3 linked regions of the Homo sapiens genome follow. The protein of the gene in region 1 interacts with the protein of each later gene in a pairwise test. Each region holds a gene or a part of one and is shown in the gene's direction. Other genes may lie near its edges.

What was found.
Region 2: the proteins of PM20D2 (region 1) and TAPBPL interact in binary tests that used the Homo sapiens proteins (3 or more experiments, as listed by UniProt).
Region 3: the proteins of PM20D2 (region 1) and RP2 interact in binary tests that used the Homo sapiens proteins (3 or more experiments, as listed by UniProt).

The regions. Positions count from the first base shown.
Region 1 is NC_000006.12:89,156,037-89,163,054, forward strand, and holds part of PM20D2 (xaa-Arg dipeptidase), read left to right. Parts: intron 1-2,288; coding exon 2,289-2,424; intron 2,425-5,368; coding exon of another isoform or gene 5,369-5,472; exon of another isoform or gene 5,473-5,734; intron 5,735-5,746; coding exon 5,747-5,854; intron 5,855-6,072; coding exon 6,073-6,227; 3' UTR 6,228-7,018. UniProt on the Homo sapiens protein: Catalyzes the peptide bond hydrolysis in dipeptides having basic amino acids lysine, ornithine or arginine at C-terminus. Postulated to function in a metabolite repair mechanism by eliminating alternate dipeptide by-products formed during carnosine synthesis.
Region 2 is NC_000012.12:6,447,286-6,455,059, forward strand, and holds the start of TAPBPL (tapasin-related protein isoform 1 precursor), read left to right. Parts: upstream 1-4,756; 5' UTR 4,757-4,963; coding exon 4,964-5,027; intron 5,028-5,265; exon of another isoform or gene 5,266-5,334; intron 5,335-5,781; coding exon 5,782-6,012; intron 6,013-6,161; coding exon 6,162-6,431; intron 6,432-7,774. Other genes in the region: CD27 antigen, read left to right, coding at 2,888-3,067, 3,256-3,345, 3,610-3,729, 3,871-4,289. UniProt on the Homo sapiens protein: Component of the antigen processing and presentation pathway, which binds to MHC class I coupled with beta2-microglobulin/B2M. Association between TAPBPR and MHC class I occurs in the absence of a functional peptide-loading complex (PLC).
Region 3 is NC_000023.11:46,832,270-46,840,060, forward strand, and holds the start of RP2 (protein XRP2), read left to right. Parts: upstream 1-4,773; 5' UTR 4,774-4,831; coding exon 4,832-4,933; intron 4,934-7,791. UniProt on the Homo sapiens protein: Acts as a GTPase-activating protein (GAP) involved in trafficking between the Golgi and the ciliary membrane.

The DNA.
Region 1 (7,018 bases):
TCCACACCCAGCTATTTTTTTGTATCTTTAGTAGAGACGAGGTTTCATCATGTTGGCCAGGCTGGTCTCGAACTCCTGACCTTGTGATCCACCCACCTCAGCCTCCCAAAGTGCTGGAATTACAGGTGTGAGCCACCACACTGACTGGTTTTGTTGATTTGAACTATAAAGTTAGTATTTAAAATCATGTACTGTGTAAAGTGGAGTGAGTTTTAGAATTATACAAGATAAGAATCTTGCCCTAGAGGGAGCCTGTAGTCTAGTTGGAGAGACAAGATCTTGACCCATAACTCTCAGCCTAGCTAATTCTGTAACCTTTAGAAATGTTTAGTGTCTTTGGCTCTCCATTTTCTTGCTTGAAAAATGGAGATAATAACAATTTATCTTAGGATTCTTGTGAGAATTAAATGAGATAATGTTTCTGAAGGGTTTAGAGCCCAGCCTTCATTTATATTGCCTTATTTTTTTCTGTTCTTATTAGTCTAGAGATGTATGATTGATTCACGTAGTAGCAGTATCTCACAGTAGCAGTAATTCTCAGAAAGCATATGTTACGTGTCCTGAGAGTAGTGTGGAATGTGTCGTGAGGATCAGAGGTGGGAAAGAGTGGTCTGGGGCTGTTAACCTTGGAGGAAGGTTTTGTGGAAGACTGTAGACCTGAACTGAGCTTTGAAGGTTGATCATACTTTCAGATATGCATGGGAAAGACAGAGACTGAAAGTTCTTAGGGAATATAGTCAGCAAAGATAAGAATATAGAAGCTCGTGTTGTGTTGTAGTTAATCGATAAACATATGGACAGATGTAGGAGCAAAGATGTATTCTCATATGCCACTAGAGAAGATGGTTATAGTGAATGAAAACTGTGAAATGTCCATAGCTGAGGGCAGTAAAAACTAAATATTTATTCCCTTATTCATTTATAATTATAAATATTTATTTGTGAAATACTTATGGATGTGAACTATTATCATTAGGCAATATCTCAAGGTATACAGTATTCCCTTATGGTAAGGTTTGTTGTTATTGGATTTGAATCTATATTTAATTTAATTTATTTATTTTTAAAGTTTTTTGTAGAGATAGGCTCTCCCTGTGTTGCCCAGGCTGGTCTCAAACTCCTGGGCTCAAGTGATCCTCGTGCTTTGGCCTCCCAAAGTTCTGGGATTGCAGGTGTGAGCCACCTTGCCTGGCCTAAATCTATATTTTAAATAATCTTTTAGTAATTTCTTATATTTTGGCTGACTTGTAAGGTCTGATTTGGTTGTCATAATTTCTACCGTAGATGTTGCTAAGAATAAAAGAAATGTCATCTCTGCCATTTTATGATTGGCTTTTGCTAATATTGGTTTGAGGGAATATTGCCAATTTTTATTTAATCAAAACTGAATCTGTAAATCCACTTAACTGGGCACATAAAAGCTGCTTCCGTATCTTTATATACTGAAATTAATAAATGAGGACTGTTGTCAACCCTTCCTCATTGCAAATCTTCTACATTTCCCTCAGAGTACTTTTCTACCTCTCACACCAGGCAGTGATGTCAGTGTCAGTTTGCATATTGAATATTAGTAAAGCTTAATTTCTTTTTTTTGGAGACTGAATCCTAGAGCAGTGTTCCTCAGAGTGTGGTTTTTGGGTCACCTATGTCAGAATTACTTTGAGGTGCTGGTTAAAATAAAAATTAGGCTGGGTGCAGTGGCTCATGCCTGTAATCCCAGCACTTTGGGAGGCCGAGACGGGCAGATCACATGAAGTCAGGAGTTTGAGGCCAGCCTGGCCAACATGGCAAAACCCCATCTCTACTAAAATACAAAAACAATTAGCTGGGCTTGGTGGCAGGCGCCTGTAATCCCAGCTACTTGGGAGGCTAAGGCAGGAGAATCATTTGAACCTGGGAGGCGGAGGTTGTGGTGAGCTGAGATCACACCACTGCACTCCAGCCTGGGCAACAGAGTGAGACTCCATCTCAAAAATAAAATAAAAATTTCTGGGCCCTTCTCATACCCTATCTAGGTGACTGAAGTTGACACTTGGTAGCTAGTATAGAGCTTGGTGACATTGTGGGGTTTAGTGTATATATAGCATAAAAGAGAGTCCTAGGAACTCTCGTTATAGAAAATAAATCTTTTTTCTTTTTTAAGGTAAGAGATTTGAGAGTGTTTATATCTGGAAGGGAAAGTATCTTCTCTTAAAACCTCTTCCTATTAGAGAACAATCACTGGTTTGAAAATTAGATAGTGAATTTGAGTTTTTTATTTCAAAATTTGTTTTGCAATTTTTTATTAGGTGGAAATTAAAGGTGGAGCACATGATTATTACAATGTTCTTCCCAATAAGAGCCTATGGAAAGCCTATATGGAAAATGGAAGAAAGCTAGGAATAGAGTTCATTTCAGAAGATACAATGTTGAATGGCCCTTCAGGTAATTAAGTGTTTTTTTATATATTGAGCTATTTGAGGAAGAGAAATACCATCTTTGGTTAAATTGGTTGTATTTAATGGTTTGGGAGGTCGGGAGGTACTACTGACGTTTTTAATATTTTCACAAACTTTATGGTTAGGGGAAAGAAACTAATGGACTCTTAAGTGAGTGTAGAATGTCAAACGAGCAGACTTGATTTTAGAAATAGTCAACCTACATTTTTGTCTGTATTCTAAATATTTTCTAGTGTTTAAGTTTCGTTAGTTTTAATTTTTAAGTAAGTTGCTAAGGTGGGATATAGAATTTTAATTCATTCTCAGTCATCACAATAAGCAGGTTACTAAGTACTTAGTTATCTGGGGCATTTTCAGTTTCTGAGGAGCAACAGACAGCTAGAATTGAAATAAGCATATTTGGGGTTATGTTAGTTTTTTTTTCCTTTTAAAAGCATATTATTACTAATACATTTGCAAGTTAGAGATGTATCATCTGTTTTAAAAATAGATGTTGTTGAAGTAGGCCCAAAAGGACTTGGTGGTGAAAATGGGGTGTCGGTGTCATTCATTAAGATAAGGAGTTCAAGAGAAAGAGCAGGTTAGGGTAAGAGGGGGTTGTTATAAATTATTAGTATGTTAAACTTGAGGTGCTTATAGTATTTCTAAGTGGAGCTGTTCAGTACCTGTTAAATCTAGAACCCAAAAAGATGTCTAGTTTGGAGATTTAGGAGTTGTCCATATATGAAAGGTATATAGAAGACATAGATGTCGATGAGGTTGCCCAAATACATAGAGGAAGAAGATTCCCAGAGATCAGACATTGGCAGTCAACGAAGTGGTCAGAGAGAAAGCCAGACAATCAGGAGAGAGGAGAAGTCATGGAAGCCAAGGGAGAAGAAAACTTACAGAAGAGAAGGAGGCATAAATCATGTCAAGTGCTGTAGAGACTGAATAAGATGAATATGGTCTAGTGTCCACTGGACTCTAGTAATTAGAAATTCATGAATTGTCTGGAAGAAAATAGTATAAGACCAGTGGTACCAGATGCTGGGTCTCACTTCTCTACCCAGGGCATTGACTGCTGAGATAGTGGAAGTAGCAAATGAAGACTATTCTTTTTCAAGAGAGTTAGCTTTCAAGGAAAATAGAAAGAGTGGATACAAGCTTGAGGGAAATACGGAAAAGAAAATAGTTTTTAAGGGAAGATACTTGAGAAGTAGATGTAATGTTTAGGAAGGAGGTCAGGGAGTTCAGAGACTTTCCCTCTAGGAAGTAGCACACAGTGAGCATTGAGCTGGTAGGGCTGAGGGATTGAGAGAGAATTGCCACTGAGAGGAGTTGTCCAGGGACATCAGAGTTTCATGTTTTCTTTTGTTCTGGACAGCAAGAAAGCTCAGCTCAGCATGGTTCTGTTCTTTTACCCTAGCAGGTTTCTGCTGTCTAGCTGAAGAAGGGAAGACACATGGCCTGCTCTACCCCGGGTTTGGGTTTTATATAATGGACAAAACAGTAGGATAAAGTGGCTGTGATTTTGGTATGATTTGTGGGCTCTAGGGTCTAGTTCCACAAGTAAGATCTTAAAATATGCAACAGGTTTTTTTTTGTCCATCCTTTTTTGTTTTGTTTTGTTTTTACACTCAGACTCTTTAGACTCTTTAAACACTGGAGAGGCTTTTTCCATCCTGTTCACTGATGTCCCATTACTGTGCATCCTCAGTGTGTGGAGCCGTTTCTGGCACAGTTAAGTGCTTAGTGAATATTTTCTGAAGCAGTACTTCTATAGAGGCTACTATGCCTCAAAGTCTGGCCTCAGTCTGCATTTACCACATAACTAGCAGCTGTGAGACTATCGGCATGTTATTTAATACCCATAAGCCTTGGTTTCTTCATGTTTAAAATGGAAACTGTTCTAAATATTAATGAGAATACATACAAAGCACTTAGGATTGTGTTTGGAACGTAGTATTCCAGATAAATGTTAGCTACTCTTTGTCACATATTCCTTTATTCTCTTACCAATCACTGTGTAGTCTCACTTTGCCTGCATGGTGTTTGACATGTAATAAACATTCAGTAAATATCCATTGAGTGAACATAAGGCTTTGTTTTTACTGTGATTTATTCAACAAGTGCCTGTGTGTCAATCCTGTGAGAAGCTAGATGCACAGTCATTTCAAATACTATTTCTTGCCTCATACAGCCTCATAATTTAGTTTCTGACATAAGCATGAACCAAATCATCCAATACATGGAAAATTAAAAAGTACTGTAAAGGAGAGTAATACATCTCTGTGAGAGCTTATGCTAGAGGAATTTCACTTTATGGGAAGGTGAAGTAAGTAAGGCTTTGCTGAGGAAATGATGCTTAAGATGGAATTTGAAGGTTAAGTAAGAGTTACAGAGATGATGCAGGGATAGCATGTGCAAGGGTCCTGTGACAGGGAGAGCATGGTGAGTGTCTAGAGCGGCTAGGGCATCGAGAGTAGTGGGAACATGGTATGAGATCAGGTTGGAAAGGTGAATGAAGATTGAAAAAAAAAAGACGGCAAATAGAGTAGATGCTGCTAGACCAATTAGGAAACTTCTAGTTCAGGCAAGAGATAATGATAGCATAGGCTGAGGACAGGTGTTGGTGATGGTGATGCAAAGAGCGTTAGGATTCTGAGATATTTGGCAGGTACTGTTGATAGGTGGAGTGGAGGTAGAAGAGAAAGATCATGAGTTTGACTTTAGATATGTTAAGTTTGATCTACCTTGAAGACATCCAAGAGAAGATACCAGGCTGGCAACTGGATGTATGAGCATGGAACTTAGCAGAGACTGGGAAGAGATTTGAGTTGGTGGTGATTTGAAGCAATACATACGGACAAAATCTTGAGAAAGAATATGCAGTAAGAAGAGAAAGGGGCCTGGAATGGAGTCTCCCGTAACTATTATTTCATCGTCAGGTAGAGGGGGCTCTATCCCCAAGAGAGACAGAAGAAGGGGCCATCAGAGAGGCAGAAGGGAAGCCATGCAAGTGCTGTGTCACAGAAGAGAAGAAAGGGAGTAGGTGGCAGTGTGGAGTGCTGGCCAAGAGGGCCAGTAAAAGCCGTGAGACAAGGTGAGGGCAGGTTTGCAGTGACCTTCATGAGAGATGTGACTGATACAGGGGAGTGGGTGGCAGACTCAGTGGAAGGTGAGCCCATGAAAGCATGAGCATACGGACAACTCTCCAAGAAGCTCACTTCTCTGCGTCTCTTCTAACAGGGACTGTGACTTCATAACTCCAGAATACTTAACCACATATACTTAAATAGACTTTTCTTAACTTTGTGTGTTCCAAGGATCTACGGATTTTGGAAATGTTAGTTTTGTGGTTCCTGGAATTCATCCATATTTTCACATTGGATCTAATGCCTTGAATCATACTGAACAGTACACTGAAGCTGCTGGTAAGTGTTGTTGGATGTGACTGTTTTGGCACACACACTCTTCTTCTGGTAGTAGCTGCCTTTCTGTTTAACCTACTATTTCACTACATAACATCACCTCAGTAAATACTGCACTGTGGTGGGCAGTTGGAGAGCCAGTTGAGATACGGGTAGCTAACCTGTGAAATTAAATACAGCTTAAATAAGTAAGGAGGTATTTTATTTTCTCTACCTTTTAGGGTCACAGGAAGCTCAGTTCTACACTCTGCGGACGGCCAAAGCTCTGGCAATGACGGCACTGGATGTTATTTTTAAACCAGAGTTACTGGAAGGAATCAGAGAGGACTTTAAACTGAAACTTCAAGAAGAACAGTTTGTAAATGCAGTAGAATAAAAGACTTAGGGGCCACTTATAAATCAAGAAGACGTGATGATTTTTTTCTTTTAATCTCTTTTAATGAAGGCATGCTTGTTTTTTAATCTTAAAGGAGTAAAATTCTTTTTACCTGATAAGTGAGGACAGGGTGTGGAGAAAACATATTAATTACCTCATATCTAAAGTGAAAATTTTTGCAAATCCGTACTTGATAGGATTATGATATTACAGGAGCTGGTATGTGATGCCATTCTTTCTTTTTTTTTACCCCGCAACCACTCACCTTCACAGTAGTGATACCATTTCTTAACCTGGAGGATACATGGCATCATTTTTATAAAATATGTTAGTAAACCTTTTTGTAAGCCTTAAATGTTATGTGTATTTTTAAAAGCTTAAGAGATTTCAAACCTTATATTCAGAATTGACACCCATGAGAGTGTTTTGTGGTATAGGGTGGTAAACTTGTTCTCTAATCGTATATTAATTCCTCTACCAGATTGTATATTTGAAGCCAGTGTCTTTCCTTTTTTTGTTTTAAGATAGAGCCTCGCTCTGTTGCCCAGGCTGAAGTGTAGTGGCACAATCTCGGCTCACTGCAACCTCTGCCTCCCAGGTTCAAGTGATTCTCCTGCCTCAGCCTACCAAGTAGCTGGGATTACAGGTGTGTGGCACCATGCCCAGCTAATTTTTGTATTTTTAGTAGAGACGGCATTTCACCATGTTGGCCAGGCTGGTCTCGAACTCCTGACCTCAGGTGATGCACCTGCCTCGGCCTCCTAAAGTGCTGGGATTACAGGCATGAGCCA
Region 2 (7,774 bases), on another chromosome or scaffold:
CTTCCTGAAGGTCTTCGCCCCATACTGAGCCCATCTTCAGTCCCTTCACTTGTTCCAAACTAGCCCAATCCATGACCCTTCTCTGGGAGCTCAGCCAATAGATCCCAAAGTACCACAGCAGCACCTGGCTGCAGAAGGACCCCCGGGAAATGCAGTCAGGGGTGAGAAGATGGGTGGGCTGAATGAGCTCGGCCCTCTCTGGGCCTTAGTGCTGGCATCTATGAGATGAGGACATGCCTGAAGTCAGCCTGGAATTTTGAGCCCAGGTTATACCTGGTAAATAGAACTCCCAGGTCTCCGGATACTCACCACTAAAACAATAGCACCTCATTGTTTTTGTTTTGTTTTGTTTTGTTTTTTAATTATACTTTAAGTTCTAGGGTACATGTACACAATGTGCAGGTTTGTTACATAGGTATACATGTGCCATGTTGGTGTGCTGCACCCATTAACTCATCATTTACATTAGGTATATCTCCTAATGCTATCCCTCCTCCCTCCCCACACCCCACGACAGGCCCCAGTGTGTGATGTTCCCCTTCCTGTGTCCAAGTGTTCTCATTGTTCAATTCCCACCTACGAGTGAGAACACATTGTTTTTAACCCTCCCCAGCAGCTTCTTTAACCCCTCCATTTCCCTTTTGGCGGAGACCCTTGTCATCACTCCTCTCTACCACCAGTGCTCTCCCCTCCTGCACTGTCCCAGGCTTCCTCATTCTTCCCTTGCAGGTCCTTATCCAACATGGCTCACAATTCCTGGGAAGCCACAAGGAAACCAAATTCTAGTAGCAACTCAGAGTCAGCATTCATTAGCAGGTCACAGGGCCATAAGGATGCCAAGAAGGAATTTGTCCCTCTCCTTGTCCTGACAAAAGGCATAAGTAGAAGAAAATTGTTAGGTTTGGTTATGACCTTTGACATTCTCTCTTTGACATCCTCCCTTTCTGCACCCCTCTTCCACCTGTCAGGGCACCTAGGGCTCCCCGGGTCCCCACAAGTGTCTGCCCTAAGGCCCACCAGGCTTTCTTGCAGCCTGTCCCACATCTGGGTGTCACTGCCTTCCTCTGAATCACCCTCCTCTCAAACCAGCCGCCAGCGAGCCCAGCCCAGCCCAGCTAGTGCCCTACCACACCCGCCCCCAGGATAATTAACACCCAGCCACCCAGCATCGGACCTCTACACTTGAGCAAAATGTATATTTTAAAGGCAAATTCTCACGCCTGTAATCCCAGCACTTTGGGAGGCCAAGGCGGGCGGATCACGAGGTCAGGAGATTGAGACCATCCTGGCTAACACGGTGAAACCCCGTCTCTACTAAAAATACAAAAAATTAGCCAGGTGTGGTGGCACACACCTGTAATCCCAGCTACTAGGGAGGCTGAGGCAGGAGAATCACTTGAACTCAGGAGGCGGAGGTTGCACTGAGCCGAGATCGTGCCACTGCACTCCAACCTGGGCGACAAAGCAAGACTCTGTCAAAAAACAAACAAACAAAATAAAGGCTAAGTAACTGTAATCAAGTAACTATTTATTATTTATTTATTTTAGTGTATCCACAGGTTGTGCAGCCATCAACACTATCTAATTCTATAACATTTTCGTTACCCCAGAGAAACTTGTACCCCTTAGCAATGACTCCCCATTTCTTCCCCCCAACCAACCCCAGCCCCAGCCCCAGCCCCTGGGAATCCCTAATATACTTTGTTTTGTTTTTTGTTGGTGGTGTTTGAGACAGGATCTCACTCTGTCACCCAGGCTGGAGCGCAGTATCATGATCTCAGCTCACTGTAACCTCCACCTCCCGGGCTCAAGCGATCCTCCCACCTCAGCCTCCCCAGTAGCTTGGGCCTACAGGTGTGCACCACCACACCCAGCTAATTTTTGTATTTTTTGTAGAGACGGGGTTTCACCATGTTGGCCAGGCTGGTCTCAAACTCCTGAGCTCAAGCAATCCACCCACCTCAACCTCCCAAAGTGCTGGGATTACAGGCGTAAGCCACTGCACCTGGCTATTTTCTTTCTTTCTTTTCTTTTTTTTTTTTTTTTGAGACGGAGTTTCACTCTGTTGCCCAGGCTGGAGTGCAGTGGCGTGATCTCGGCTCACTGCAACTTCCACCTCCCGGGTTCAAGCAATTCCCTGCCTCACCCGGCTATTTTATATTTGTTGATCTGCTGCTGGTTATGCCTGTGAGCCAAATTTGTACAAATTCTTAAGCTTTACAATCATGCGTGCCTCTCTGTACGTATATTATACTTTAATTAAAAGTTATTAAAGTATTGGGGCCGAGCACAGTGGCTCACGCCTGTAATCCCAACACTTTGGGAGGCTGAGGCTGGTGCATCACCTGAGGTCAGGAGTTTAATACCAGCCTGGCCAATACAGTAAAACCCCGTCTCTACTAAAAATACAAAAAATTAGCCGGGTGTGGTGGCACACACCTGTAATCCCAGCTACTTGGGAGGCTGAGGCAGGAGAATTGCTTGAACCCGGGAGGCAGAGGTTGCAACGAGCCAAGGTCACGCCATTGCACTCCAGCCTCGGCAACAAGAGCGAGACTCCATCTCAAAAAAATAAATAAAAAATAAAAAATGTATCAGGGAGTACAAGAGAAAGTCATATAAGCTCTTTCTACTTTTCATGGTTTCTATGTCTGAACCCATGAATCTTCCTTCTGAAAGGTCCAACTTTCTTCTTTAATAACAATAATAATGGCAAAGGCATTGGGGGACCGTGAGCAAAGGGCAGGCCTTTGCAGGGGTGGGAATGGAAAGGGAAGCACGTCCCTAGAGGTGGGCCTGGGATGGGGGTTGGGGGATGAAGCAAGTGGACCTTGAAGGTCTCCACAGGTCTGAGTGTCCTATGCTCCCTGGGCCTCTCTTCCCCCAGGTCTTCTCGTTCGCAACTGCACCATCACTGCCAATGCTGAGTGTGCCTGTCGCAATGGCTGGCAGTGCAGGGACAAGGAGTGCACCGAGTGTGATCCTCTTCCAAACCCTTCGCTGACCGCTCGGTCGTCTCAGGCCCTGAGCCCACACCCTCAGCCCACCCACTTACCTTATGTCAGTGGTAAGTTCCAGGCAACTCTCTGTGCCATCACGTGGGGTAGCGGTGATACCCCAACCAGTACTCCCCACTCCTACCCCTAGATAAGGTCAGCCTGTTTCTGCCTTCCCATCCCATCCAGCACCTCTCAGGCCTTCAGATGTGCCCTATGGGGTCCCCTGCTGCTACTCATTCTGTCTCTGTTTTTCCAGAGATGCTGGAGGCCAGGACAGCTGGGCACATGCAGACTCTGGCTGACTTCAGGCAGCTGCCTGCCCGGACTCTCTCTACCCACTGGCCACGTGAGTTTTCTCCTTAATCCCCACCGCTAGAGAGAATGCATACACGAGGGGCCAGGAGGGAAGCCAGACAGAAAGCTCCTAGGATTAGGGATAAGAGGAGGGGAAAAAGCAGAGTCCACTGTTTAGGAGAGGAGTTGGCCAACGGTGGCGGGTGGGATAGAATAAGGTGGGGGAAAGGGGAGAGGCAAGGTGACAGGAGGGCTGGGCTGAGGGAGCCAAGGGCTAGACCCTCCCCTAACCCCTGTGTGTCCCCTCCTATTACAGCCCAAAGATCCCTGTGCAGCTCCGATTTTATTCGCATCCTTGTGATCTTCTCTGGAATGTTCCTTGTTTTCACCCTGGCCGGGGCCCTGTTCCTCCATCAACGAAGGAAATATAGATCAAGTAAGAGACAGAACACAGGCCTCCGGTCCTGCCCCTGCACCACACCCCACTGGCTCAACCCCACTGCCCACGCCTGGAATCTCACTGAAACCCACCAGCTCCACTTCACCAGCCTTGGTCCTACCCCTTCTCTCCCCTTAGCTGGCGTGCTCCTGACACCCCTCCCCCAAGCGCACCCGCCTCTACCCATCTCCTTCTCCCGTCTCCCCCTGCCCCCACTGCTGGCCAAGACTCATCGGATCTCCTTCTGCAGACAAAGGAGAAAGTCCTGTGGAGCCTGCAGAGCCTTGTCATTACAGCTGCCCCAGGGAGGAGGAGGGCAGCACCATCCCCATCCAGGAGGATTACCGAAAACCGGAGCCTGCCTGCTCCCCCTGAGCCAGCACCTGCGGGAGCTGCACTACAGCCCTGGCCTCCACCCCCACCCCGCCGACCATCCAAGGGAGAGTGAGACCTGGCAGCCACAACTGCAGTCCCATCCTCTTGTCAGGGCCCTTTCCTGTGTACACGTGACAGAGTGCCTTTTCGAGACTGGCAGGGACGAGGACAAATATGGATGAGGTGGAGAGTGGGAAGCAGGAGCCCAGCCAGCTGCGCCTGCGCTGCAGGAGGGCGGGGGCTCTGGTTGTAAAACACACTTCCTGCTGCGAAAGACCCACATGCTACAAGACGGGCAAAATAAAGTGACAGATGACCACCCTGCAGCTCTCCAGCTTCCTCTCTGAAATCCCAGTCCCAAAATCCAGTTTCCTGGCCGCCTCCTGGCTCAGGTCAGGATCTGGCAGAGGAGGTTTCTCAGCCGGTTATGTTGGGGCCTGCTTAAGGGCGGGGGTGAGAAAGGTCCCCAGGCTACTGTGGATCCTGTGTCTGACTTCAGATCCCCTTTTCCCACAGTTATAGCTCCACTTTTTTGGGACAGGTGGGGAGCAAAAGGGTGCAGAGGTCAGGTCTTGAAATCACCAGGGGATTTCCGGGTGAGGTGGGTGGTGAGAAAGGAAACAGCAAGCAGGGCTCTGGCAGCTGCTGCAGACGGCTTCACACAGGGACGCGGGCTGCCATCTTGCTCTAAGTGAAAGTGAAAGAAAAGTCGGCAGCAGAGGGAACAGGGAAGAAACCTAAAGGCTGCAGGCTGCCAGGTGTGCTTGGAGAGCCCCCTTCTTCCGCCGGGCCTCGCAAGCAGCGTAGGACTGTGGAGAAGGGCGGTGGGCAAGGAGGGAACTCGAGAGCAGCCTCCATGGGCACACAGGAGGGCTGGTGCCTGCTGCTCTGCCTGGCTCTATCTGGAGCAGCAGAAACCAGTGAGTCTGGGAGTCGGGGAGAGCTGGCTGGGAGAAGAGCTACTGAAGCCCCAGGGTGCCACCCTCCCCGAGATTCCAGAAGAGCAAAGGGGCCGGGGATGACCCCATCGCCTTCTAAGCCCAACAGGGGAAAGGCTCAGCGGCTGGCAAAGGAAGGAACCAATAGTGTGTGTGGAGGGAGGGTGGGGACTCCACAGGGAAAATGCTAAAGAGGGGCTGCCTCTGTGGCTGTGGTCAGGAGCCACTGTCCTACAGAGAGGGCACTGGCCTGGGAGCTGACACTTCAGAAGAGGAAAGGACTCCCCAGGTGAGGAAATCACTTGGAAGGTGACCTTGAAGGCGGGGGAGGGGAAGGCTACCCGAAATGGGAGAAAGCAGTGCAGGCTGTCAGTGCCCCAGCAACAGTAACTGTCCAGTCTCCTCTCTCTGCGGTGGCACTTGCTTGTTTTCTGAGAATTCCTTTGACTGAAAAGATAGTCTTTTATTCAACAGTTGGAAATGCAAGCATAAACTCCTCTGAGCAAGGCAAATCCAGGACTTTAACTCTCACCAAGAAGTATTTGCCTGGACTAGCAGGTGCTCTCCAGAAAGCTGGTTTGGGGATGACGGGAGAATAGAGGGACACAGAAACAGCTAGGATCTTGGATGGCAACTTTTACCCTTTGATGACTCCACAGCTTGAGGGCGGGGGCAGGAAGCAAGTGTGGAGTAGCTTTCTGGGGAAGGCGGTGCTCACCCCAGCCTTTGTCTGCAGAGCCCCACCCAGCAGAGGGGCAGTGGCGGGCAGTGGACGTGGTCCTAGACTGCTTCCTGGCGAAGGACGGTGCGCACCGTGGAGCTCTCGCCAGCAGTGAGGACAGGGCAAGGGCCTCCCTTGTGCTGAAGCAGGTGCCAGTGCTGGACGATGGCTCCCTGGAGGACTTCACCGATTTCCAAGGGGGCACACTGGCCCAAGATGACCCACCTATTATCTTTGAGGCCTCAGGTAAAAGCCTTCCACCTGTGTCCTTGGTCCTCCCGGGCTCCCTCCACCAGGACAGCCCAGGTCCCGATTACAGCCACACATACTGCCTCCCGTTGGCCCTGGTGTTCTCACGCTAATTTGCCCTCTGTGTGTGCCCTGCTTCTCCCCAGTGGACCTGGTCCAGATTCCCCAGGCCGAGGCCTTGCTCCATGCTGACTGCAGTGGGAAGGAGGTGACCTGTGAGATCTCCCGCTACTTTCTCCAGATGACAGAGACCACTGTTAAGACAGCAGCTTGGTTCATGGCCAACATGCAGGTCTCTGGAGGGGGACCTAGCATCTCCTTGGTGATGAAGACTCCCAGGGTCACCAAGAATGAGGCGCTCTGGCACCCGACGCTGAACTTGCCACTGAGCCCCCAGGGGACTGTGCGAACTGCAGGTAAGAAAATGAAAAGCAAGGCCAGGTGTGGTGGCTCACGCCTGTAATTCCAGAATTTTGGGATACCGAGGTCGGTGGATCACCTGAGGTCAGGAGTTTGAGATCAGCCTGGTCAACACGGTGAAACCCCGTCTCTACTAATACCAAAATTAGCCGGGCATGGTGGCGGGTGCCTGTAATCCCAGCTACGAGGGAGGCTGAGGCAGGAGAATCGCTTGAACCCGGAAGGCAGAGGTTGCGGTGAGCCGAGATCACACCATGGCACTTCAGCCTGGGCAACAAGAGCGAAACTCCATCTCAAAAAAAAAAAAGAAAAGAAAAGAAAAGCAAGTCACAGAAAGTTTTGCTTTTCTAAAGTGGTAAGATATGGGGCACAGAAGAAGAAAGGGAACAAATCCACCTCCATCCACACTGGTCACCTCAGGGCACCCCTAGGCCTTGGTCCTTTCTTCCTAAAAACCCCTGAGTCAGGCCAGGTGCGAAGGCCCATGCCTGTAATCCCAGCACTTTGGGAGGCCAAGGCAGGTGGATCACCTGAGGTCAGGAGTTCAAGACCAGCCTGGCCAACATGGTGAAACCCCCTCTCTACTAAAATACAGAAATTAGCCGGGCATGATGGCAGGTGCCTGTAATCCCAGCTACTCAGGAGACTGAGACGGGAGAATCACTTGAACCTGAGAGACGGTGGTTGCAGTGAGCCGAGATTGCGCCACTGCACTCCAGCCTGGGCAGCTGAGTGAGACACCGTCTCAAAAACAACAACAACAACAAAAACCCTGAGTCCACAAGAGAATGCTTCGCAGCCCCTACCTGAACGTCCCCAGGCACACAGACAACCTGTGTTATTTCCAAAATGGAGATCGTTCTCATCTCACTGGGCTGCCATGAGGAAATAAGACACATGATGCTATTCTGTACATGGGTGCTGTCCACTGTAGTCTTATCGAGCCAAAACCCGGTTTTCTCCCAGTGAAATGCTAGGCTGCTCTGGTGCTTCAGGGGTAAAGCTCAGGGATGCATCATTTGTTCATGATCTTATTAGTAAACCCAGTACTTGCCCTCTCCAGCTCAGCACATCCTCGAGGGCACAAGAAATTGAGAACATGATGACAGGGTTCCCCAGAGCCCATTAATCCAATACTCTGTGCCCTGCTTCTTTGAGTCTCCAAGAAGAAACAGCCAAGTCCAGAGAAAATTAGGGGCAACCGTCCTATCCTTGGAAAACCCCAGAACACTCTAACCTCTCTGTGGTCCAACCTAAATCTATCCTGACCCATTAGAAAAAGGTCTTCATGTCTGTCCAGTGTCTACCATACTCCTGGCATGCGTAGGTATTTCTCTCT
Region 3 (7,791 bases), on another chromosome or scaffold:
AGTGAGCAAGGATGTGTCAGGTCAACTCAAACATAGGGAATTTTCCAGCCATCGTTGCTGGGGTAATTGACTTATTCATGCTGTAGAGATACACTGCTTCAGGACTGTCTTTTTGTTGTTGTTGTTTTTGAGATGGGATCTCACTCTGTTGCCCAGGCTGGAGTGCAGTGGTGCGATCTTGGCTCACTACAGCCTCTGCCTCCCGGGTTCAAGCAATTCTCCCACCTCAGCCTTCTGAGTAGCCGGGATTACAGGGGCGCACCACCACGCCTGGCTAATTTTTGCATTTTTAGTATGTTTAGTATTTTCACCATGTTGACCAAGCTGGTCTCAAACTCCTGACCTCAAGTGATCCACCTGCCTCGGCCTCCCAAAGTGCTGGGATTACAGGTGTGAGCCACCGTGCCCGGCCAGGACTGTCTTCTGAGAAGTAACTATATCACTTCTGTGGTCAAGACTCAGGGGACCCAGAGCCATCTCTGGAGCTTGTGGCCAGGTGTAAACCCACAACTCAACATTTTAATATAGATGAATAGATACATCAAGCTGAACAGGAAGGGCAGCCTTCTATAGAAAAGAAATCACTAGAATATAAATAGCAGGAGGAGCACAAGCAGAACAAGCAACCAACTTCTGCCTGAACTCTTCAGAGTTAGCGTTCCCTTTTCAGGACCTGCTTCCCACCCATATCTGTAACACCCATGTTTGGAATTCGCCCCTGCAGCTGCAGCAATGGGACCAGGGGTGCATACCAACCTAGAGCCAATCTGTTATTGACTGGCCAGCAATGTATATGATTATCTCCCTTGAGAGTCTGAGACTGTAGCATGCCCTTGGACAGAAAGGCCATGAGGAATCAGGGTGGGATAGCTGTTGTCAACCATGTAAATGCTGATGAGTAAGTAGAGAGCTGGTTTGCAAAAATAAGTAGTGATGAGAATTCATGGGGACAGGTGAAAAAGAGATGGGGCAGAAAAGAAAGAAAGAATAAGAGAGAAAGAAAAAGGATGAGACAGCACTAGTATTAGCTCTGTTCATTAGCTTTCTAGTCCCCAGTTCTTAACATTTGATTTAATTTTCTTTTTGTAATTTTGTTTTTGGTCAAGAGTGATGGTAGGATGGGAATGAACAGAAAAGGGACTTTATCTTCACTTTTAAGGGTCCCTGAAAAGATCACTCTTGGATATAGGTTTTATTGTAGATTTGAGCTTTTCTCATTAATGAATACTTCAAAACAGTGAGAGTTTCAGAGGTTGTTTCTCTAGAATTAGTTTTGTTATATTGTTTGTTCATTAAGAGGAATAGCATCACTGTGGGACAGAGCTCCCATAGGCATCAGAAGGCCGAGGCAGATACTTATTTCAGATGAATTAGAGAGGAACAAACTTAAGGCAGGAGGAGGCACTGGGAAACACAGGATGTGGATTTTTCCAGTCCCTGCTCAGCCACTCTCATCGTGACCACAGATTCATCCCTTCACCTCTCTGGATCTCTGCCTCCTCTGCTACACTAAGTAGTGGTCATAGTTATATATTTATATCTGGTCACAGATGTTTTATAATCATAGACCATAGATTATAAATATAATAATAGATTATAAAATATCGAATGAGGGTCTTATCCAAAAACATCTTCACATAAAACTTTCATCTCACTCTGAAGGAGAAAAAGTGTGCACTGGGTAAAGACTCTATTGCCTAAGATCTGGAACTTAAATTTGCAGTAATTTCTAATACTTAAGCACATGTACTTTTCTTCCCGATTGTGCAATAAAGGACGGGAAGTAAAAAGGGGAACATTCTTTATGTTCAAATTAAGTCGGCCGGGCACTGTAGCTCACGCCTGTAATCCCAACATTTTGGGAGGCCGAGGTGGGTGGATCACCTGAGGTCAGGAGATCGAGACCAGCCTGGCCAACATGGTGAAACCCCGTCTCTACTAAAAATACAAAAATTAGCCAGGTGTGGTTTTGTGCGCCTGTAGCCCCAGCTACTCGGGAGGCTGAGGCAGGAGAATTGCTTGAACCTGGGAGGTGGAGGTTGCAGTGAGCTGAGATCATGTCATTGCACTCCAGCCTGGGTGATAAAGCGAGACTCTGTCTCAAAAAAAAAAAAAAAAAAAAAAGTCAGAGGCTCATTTAGGATACAAACTAGATGTGAATAAGTATGGGAAATTTAAAAGATAACCAAATTTGAACCTGAAGTGATCAGCATTTGATATCCTACTGAGATGTCAAAATACTGTTTCTCAGAGAAACTGACTTACCTTTCTTTTCTATTACATAGGCAATGCATGTGTATTGCAGTAAAATTCGACCCAAGTATAACAAATGTTTATATTTAGTGTATATATCTTTAAATATATTCTGACGAACCCTATGCCATTTGCTTAGAACAGATCTGATCGTTCATATGCAATGCTTATGTCCTCAACGAGGCTATAAACTCCATGAGGAGAACCCCTTTACCATAAATCCACATGCCTCCCACCCCCACAGTTTGGTCACTTTCTTTGGGAAGGGATGGGGGAAGTTTATAAATGCTTCCTTCACTAGCACCCATGCATGCATTCATTCATTTGACAAACGTTGTATTGAGCACCTAGTATGGACTTGGGCCAGGTGTAGGAGATTCAAAGGTACATCCCTCCCCTCAGCTTTCCTCCCCACTGCCTTTTTTTTTTTTTTTTTTTGAGACGGAGTCTTGCTCTGTCGCCCAGGCTGGAGTGGAGTGGCGCCATCTCGGCTCACTGCAACCTCCGCCTTCTGGGTTCAAGCTATTCTCCTGCCTCAGCCTCCCGAGTAGGTGGGACTACAGGCGCCCGCCACCATGCCCGGTTAATTTTTGTATTTTTAGTAGAGATGAGGTTTCACCATATTGGCCAGGCTGGTCTCGAACTCCTGACCTTGTGATCCGCCCGCCTTGGCTTCCCAAAGTGCTGGGATTACAGGCGTGAGCCACCGTGCCCGCCCCCCCCGGCTCTGGTTTTTTTTTTTTTTTTTTTTTTTAGACAGAGTCTCCCTCTGTCGCCCAGGCTGGAGTGCAGCGGCGCCATCTTGGCTCACTGCAACCTCCACCTCCTGGGTTCAAGCAATTCTCCTGCCTCAGCCTCCCGAGTAGCTGGGACTACAGGCACACGCCACTACGCCCGGCTAATTTTTGTATTTTTAGTAGAGACGGGGTTTCACCAGACGGGGTTTCACTGTGTTGAGCAGGATGGTCTCGATCTCCTGACCTCATGATCCTACCGCCTCGGCCTCCCAAAGTGCTGGGATGACAGCCGTGAGCCACCGCGCCCGGCCCTGCATGCCCTTTATGACATACCTTTTAGGCCAGGCGCGGTGGCTCATGCCTGTCATCCCAGCACTTTGGGAGGCCGAGGCGGGCAGATCACCTGAGGTCAGGAGATCGAGACCAGCCTGCCCAACATGGTGAAACCCCGTCTCTACTAAAAATACAAAAATTAGCCGGGCGTAGTGGCAGGCGCCTGCAGTCCCAGCTACTCTGGAGGCTGAGGCAGGATAATCACTTGAACCCGGGAGGCGGAGGTTGCAGTGAGCCGAGATGGCACTGCTGCACTCCAGCCTGGGCGACAAGAGCAAAAACTCCATCAAAAAAAAAAAAAAAAAAAAAAGATATACCTTTTTGATCTCAAGAAAGTCACAGTTCAAATAGGGAAACAATACACAATTAACTATTTTACTAAGTACTTGTGCAATTTTAGAGCCATATGTGAAAGTCTTAAGAAAACACAGAAGCAGCCTGGGGTGCGGTGGGTCCTGCCTGTAATCCCAGCACCTTGAGAGGCTGAGGCAGGATGATCGCTTGGGCCCAGGAGTTCAAGACCAGCCTGGGCGACATAGCAAGACCCCATTTCTACAAAAGTAAAAAAAAAAAAAAATAGGTGGGCATGGTGGTGCTTGCTTGTAGTTCCAGCTACTCAGGAAGGAGGCTGAGGCAGGAGGATCGCTTGAGCCCAGGAAGTCAAGGTTGCAAAGTTGCAAGGTTGCAGTGAGTTATGATTGTGCCACTGCAGCCTGAGTGACATAGCGAGACCCTGTGAAAGAAAAAGAAAGAAAGAAAGAAAGAAAGAAAGAAAGAAAGAAAGAAAGAAAGAAAGAAAGAAAGAAAGAGCACAGAAGAGGATTGGGAGGTTATGGGGTACAATTCTTGAGGGGGTGACCCTGGCCAGGCGATGAGAGGGCGGTAGGAAGGGTGATGAGGGGAGAAGAGGATTTAGAAATACAAATTTCAGGGTCTTCTTGTGTCAGCGGGAATTTCTGTCCCTCACAACTTTCATCATAAGATAAATCTAATGTTCAACTAGAGATCTCTCCCGCGCCTTGAACTTGCAAATTTATGAATCAGGGGCAAAAAAAACCCGGATACCGAGCCTGGCCTCCCACCAGCTAGAGAACCCACCAAGTTCCAGGAGGGGCGGGGCCGAGGGCGGTCCGTGCCACAGCTGTGGGCGGGGTTGTCCGTGCTTGCGCCAGAGCCGGCCCGCCCCGCCGCCAGGGGCTGTCGCAGGAGCCAGGCGTGGATTGGTATGTGGGTATGTCGGCCTCTCTTCATAGGCCGCGCAGGATTGCTCGAGAGGCTTTGATTGGCTCAACAGGCGCTGAGCGTTCATTGGCTGCGCTGGGTCGTCAGGGCGACGAAAAAGGGGAAGGGGTGCTGGGCCTGGCGGGCAAACTAAGGCTGCGGACCGTTGGGCGGTTCCGCGGGGCGTTGTCCGGAGAGCTGCGAGGCCGGGGTTCCCAGGGTTCACGCCACACTCTAGGAAGTGCCTGAGCTAGTGAGCTGGCCAACGAGCTCCGCGGGCTGGGACCATGGGCTGCTTCTTCTCCAAGAGACGGAAGGCTGACAAGGAGTCGCGGCCCGAGAACGAGGAGGAGCGGCCAAAGCAGTACAGCTGGGATCAGCGCGAGAAGGTAATGAAAGTCGTGTAGCCGCCGTCTCAGCCTCCCTGAGCCGCTCCGCCAGGTCCCTTACGGCCCGGGACCGCTGAGGGGGCCGACCCAACTGCTGCCGCACTCTCTTGAACGCGGATAGCTGAAGTCGGGGTGCACGACTTTTTTGGGGAGCGGGGACGTGAAGTACAGCGCTAGAGAGGCCGCCCAGAGGGCTGTGGAGCTCCGGAAGGAGCCTTAGGAGTTTGTTGTCGTGGTAGACAGACTCCCCCGGGAGCTTTCTCTGACTCCGAACCCTGCCTTGCTCTGACTTCCTGTTGGAGATGATCGATTCGAGAGAGGGAAAGAGCCGAGAACGCCCTGAATCTCAAATCACCTCGTTTCACCCACCGGCAGCGTCAAGCGGGGTTTTGTCCAGTCGTCGAGTTACGTATATGGGACCGATTCTCATCTCTTCCGGGGCTTAATGTTCTGTGGCTGTTTTCTCTTTTGTCTGCCCTCCCCGGCAAATCTCTTTGGTGCCTCATGATATATTTCACTGCTGAATTTTCTCAATTACCAAGTGGACTGTTTAATGTACAGCTTTACTCCCCCTCCTCTTCCAGTTATCCGAAAGAAATAATGAATATCGCATCAGTCTTGGAATGTGTATTAAGACTGTAAGGTGAAAATAAGCGGCATAAACCAGGCAGTATTTTACTGCTGGTTTAAATGAATGAAAACGCCCTTATTTTTATTTTTGTATATAGCCAGAAACGAAAAACCTTTGAAAACCTCCATTAGTCTTACACAAAACACACTCGGTCATACATTTCATAATAGTTCCTCTTTCTACATAGTTCTCCATTTGTGCTTACTAAACTACTTTGATGGACTTATCAATTATTTCTCCCAAACAAAATGAGAGATTTTTCAAATGGGTATTATGAACAGTTAACTCTTTGCTTAAGGCAACATATCTTTACCCAAGATTACTTTATAATAAATGTATTAACGTTTTGGAATCACAGACCTTTCTGCATGATTTCCAATCCCCAGCAGAATGTATTCAGGTAAGCTCTGGTCTCTAAGAGTCAGAGTTAGGAAATTGAAAGCTTTTTGCAGCTTTTCTCAGCCCCGTCTTTCTGCCCCTACTTCTCATACACACCCTTCTTGGGTCACATGGTACCTTTATTCTCTGTTAGTCATACTCGATAGTAGCATTTTATAATGTAGGGGAAGAAAGTACTATGCTTTCTATTTCACAAGAAGATTGCACCTGCCATTTAAAGTTATCTGATGGGCGGTTTTTAAAAGATATTGTTTTCCTCAGCCTTTGGCTTTCTAACAATGTTCTTTTAGCTTGAATTGTCTGCCTTAGAGAAAGTTGCATATTTCATTTTTATTTTAGTTTTTTCTTTTGAACTCAGGCTAAATCTAAACTAAATAAAATGCCTTTTTTATTTATAGTAGTCTTGGCTGCCTATGACTCATCGTTTCACAATAAATTGTTTTACAGTTAATGTTTATTAACATAATATTCAGGTTAGTTAGGACTTCTCATGTTAATCCTTCTTTTAGATAAGTGTGTGTGTCCTGTGATTTTTTTTCTTCTTTTGCCCATTGGCTAAGTAAATGCATTGAGAAATATAACATTGGACACCAACATCTAAGCTTTTTCCCCACAAATGAGTGTGTAATAAACTTTCAATTGTAGAAACTGTTTTGAGCTTACAGAGAACCTTTTTTTTTGAGAACACTACTAAGTTCTGTAGTTGTAGAGTTGTAAGAGATGTTATTGGATATATAAAATAAGCTCATGCTTCTGAGTGTGTGTATAATAAAAGTTAAAATCTTGATCAACTCAGCCAATCAAAATGAGAATTTCTAACCAAATGAGCATTCTGAAAAAAACCCCAGTTTTAAAATATTTTGGACTGTTGAAGAGAATTACCAGCTTACATTTTGAGACAATGCAGATACCACATTTCCCAACATAGCTTTTTCTTTTTAGTTTTTTTTTCTTTTGGAATTACTAGGAATTCTTTCTAAGTTGCCTCATTTTGATAGCTTGTTAAATTTTATACAATTTAAAATATTTTTTTCTAGGGCCAGGCATGGTGACTCATGCCTGTAATCCCAGGACTTTGGGAGGCCAAGGCTGGTGGCTCTCTTGAGCCCAGGAGTTCCAGACCAGCCTGGGCAATATGGCGAAACCTCATTCCTACTAAAAATACAAAAATTAGTGGGGCATGGTGGTGCACACCTGTAGTCCCAGCTACTCAGTAGGCTGAGGTGGGAGGATCACCTGAGCCTGGGACTTAGAGGCTGCAATGAGTCATGATCGGGCCACTGCCCTCCAGCTTGGGCAACAGAGTGAGACCCTGTTTCCAAAAAAAAAAAATAAATAAATAAAATATTTTTTCCTAGTTCCTTGCCTCCCGTGAGGTTAATTTGGGCTAGTGTGCAAATGTTCTGTATTAGTCCAATGATACGTTTACTGAGCATGGCCTTGCTTGCTCCTAGAAGATTTCAGTTGTACCTTAAAAGGAACAGATTGCAAATACAGCCCAGAGAACATAAATGAGATATGATGCATGCATATTAATAGAAATGATTTATATTAAAAGTTTAGGCTTCTGGAATGTGGTTATGGATTATAGCATATACAGTTTTAAAGTTATATCAGACAATTACCATTCAACTTGTAAGACTTTTACATGTAAAAACAAAATGGGTTGCCTGAAAAATTTCCTTGCAGCTTAGAAAAGGGTGTTTACATTTTTCCTTAGGTTGTGTAATCAGAGTATCTTTTTTTGATGTTTTCTTTTTGAGATGGAGTCTGGCTCTGTCATCGCCCAGGCTGGAATGCAGTGGCGCGATCTCGGCTCACTGCAACC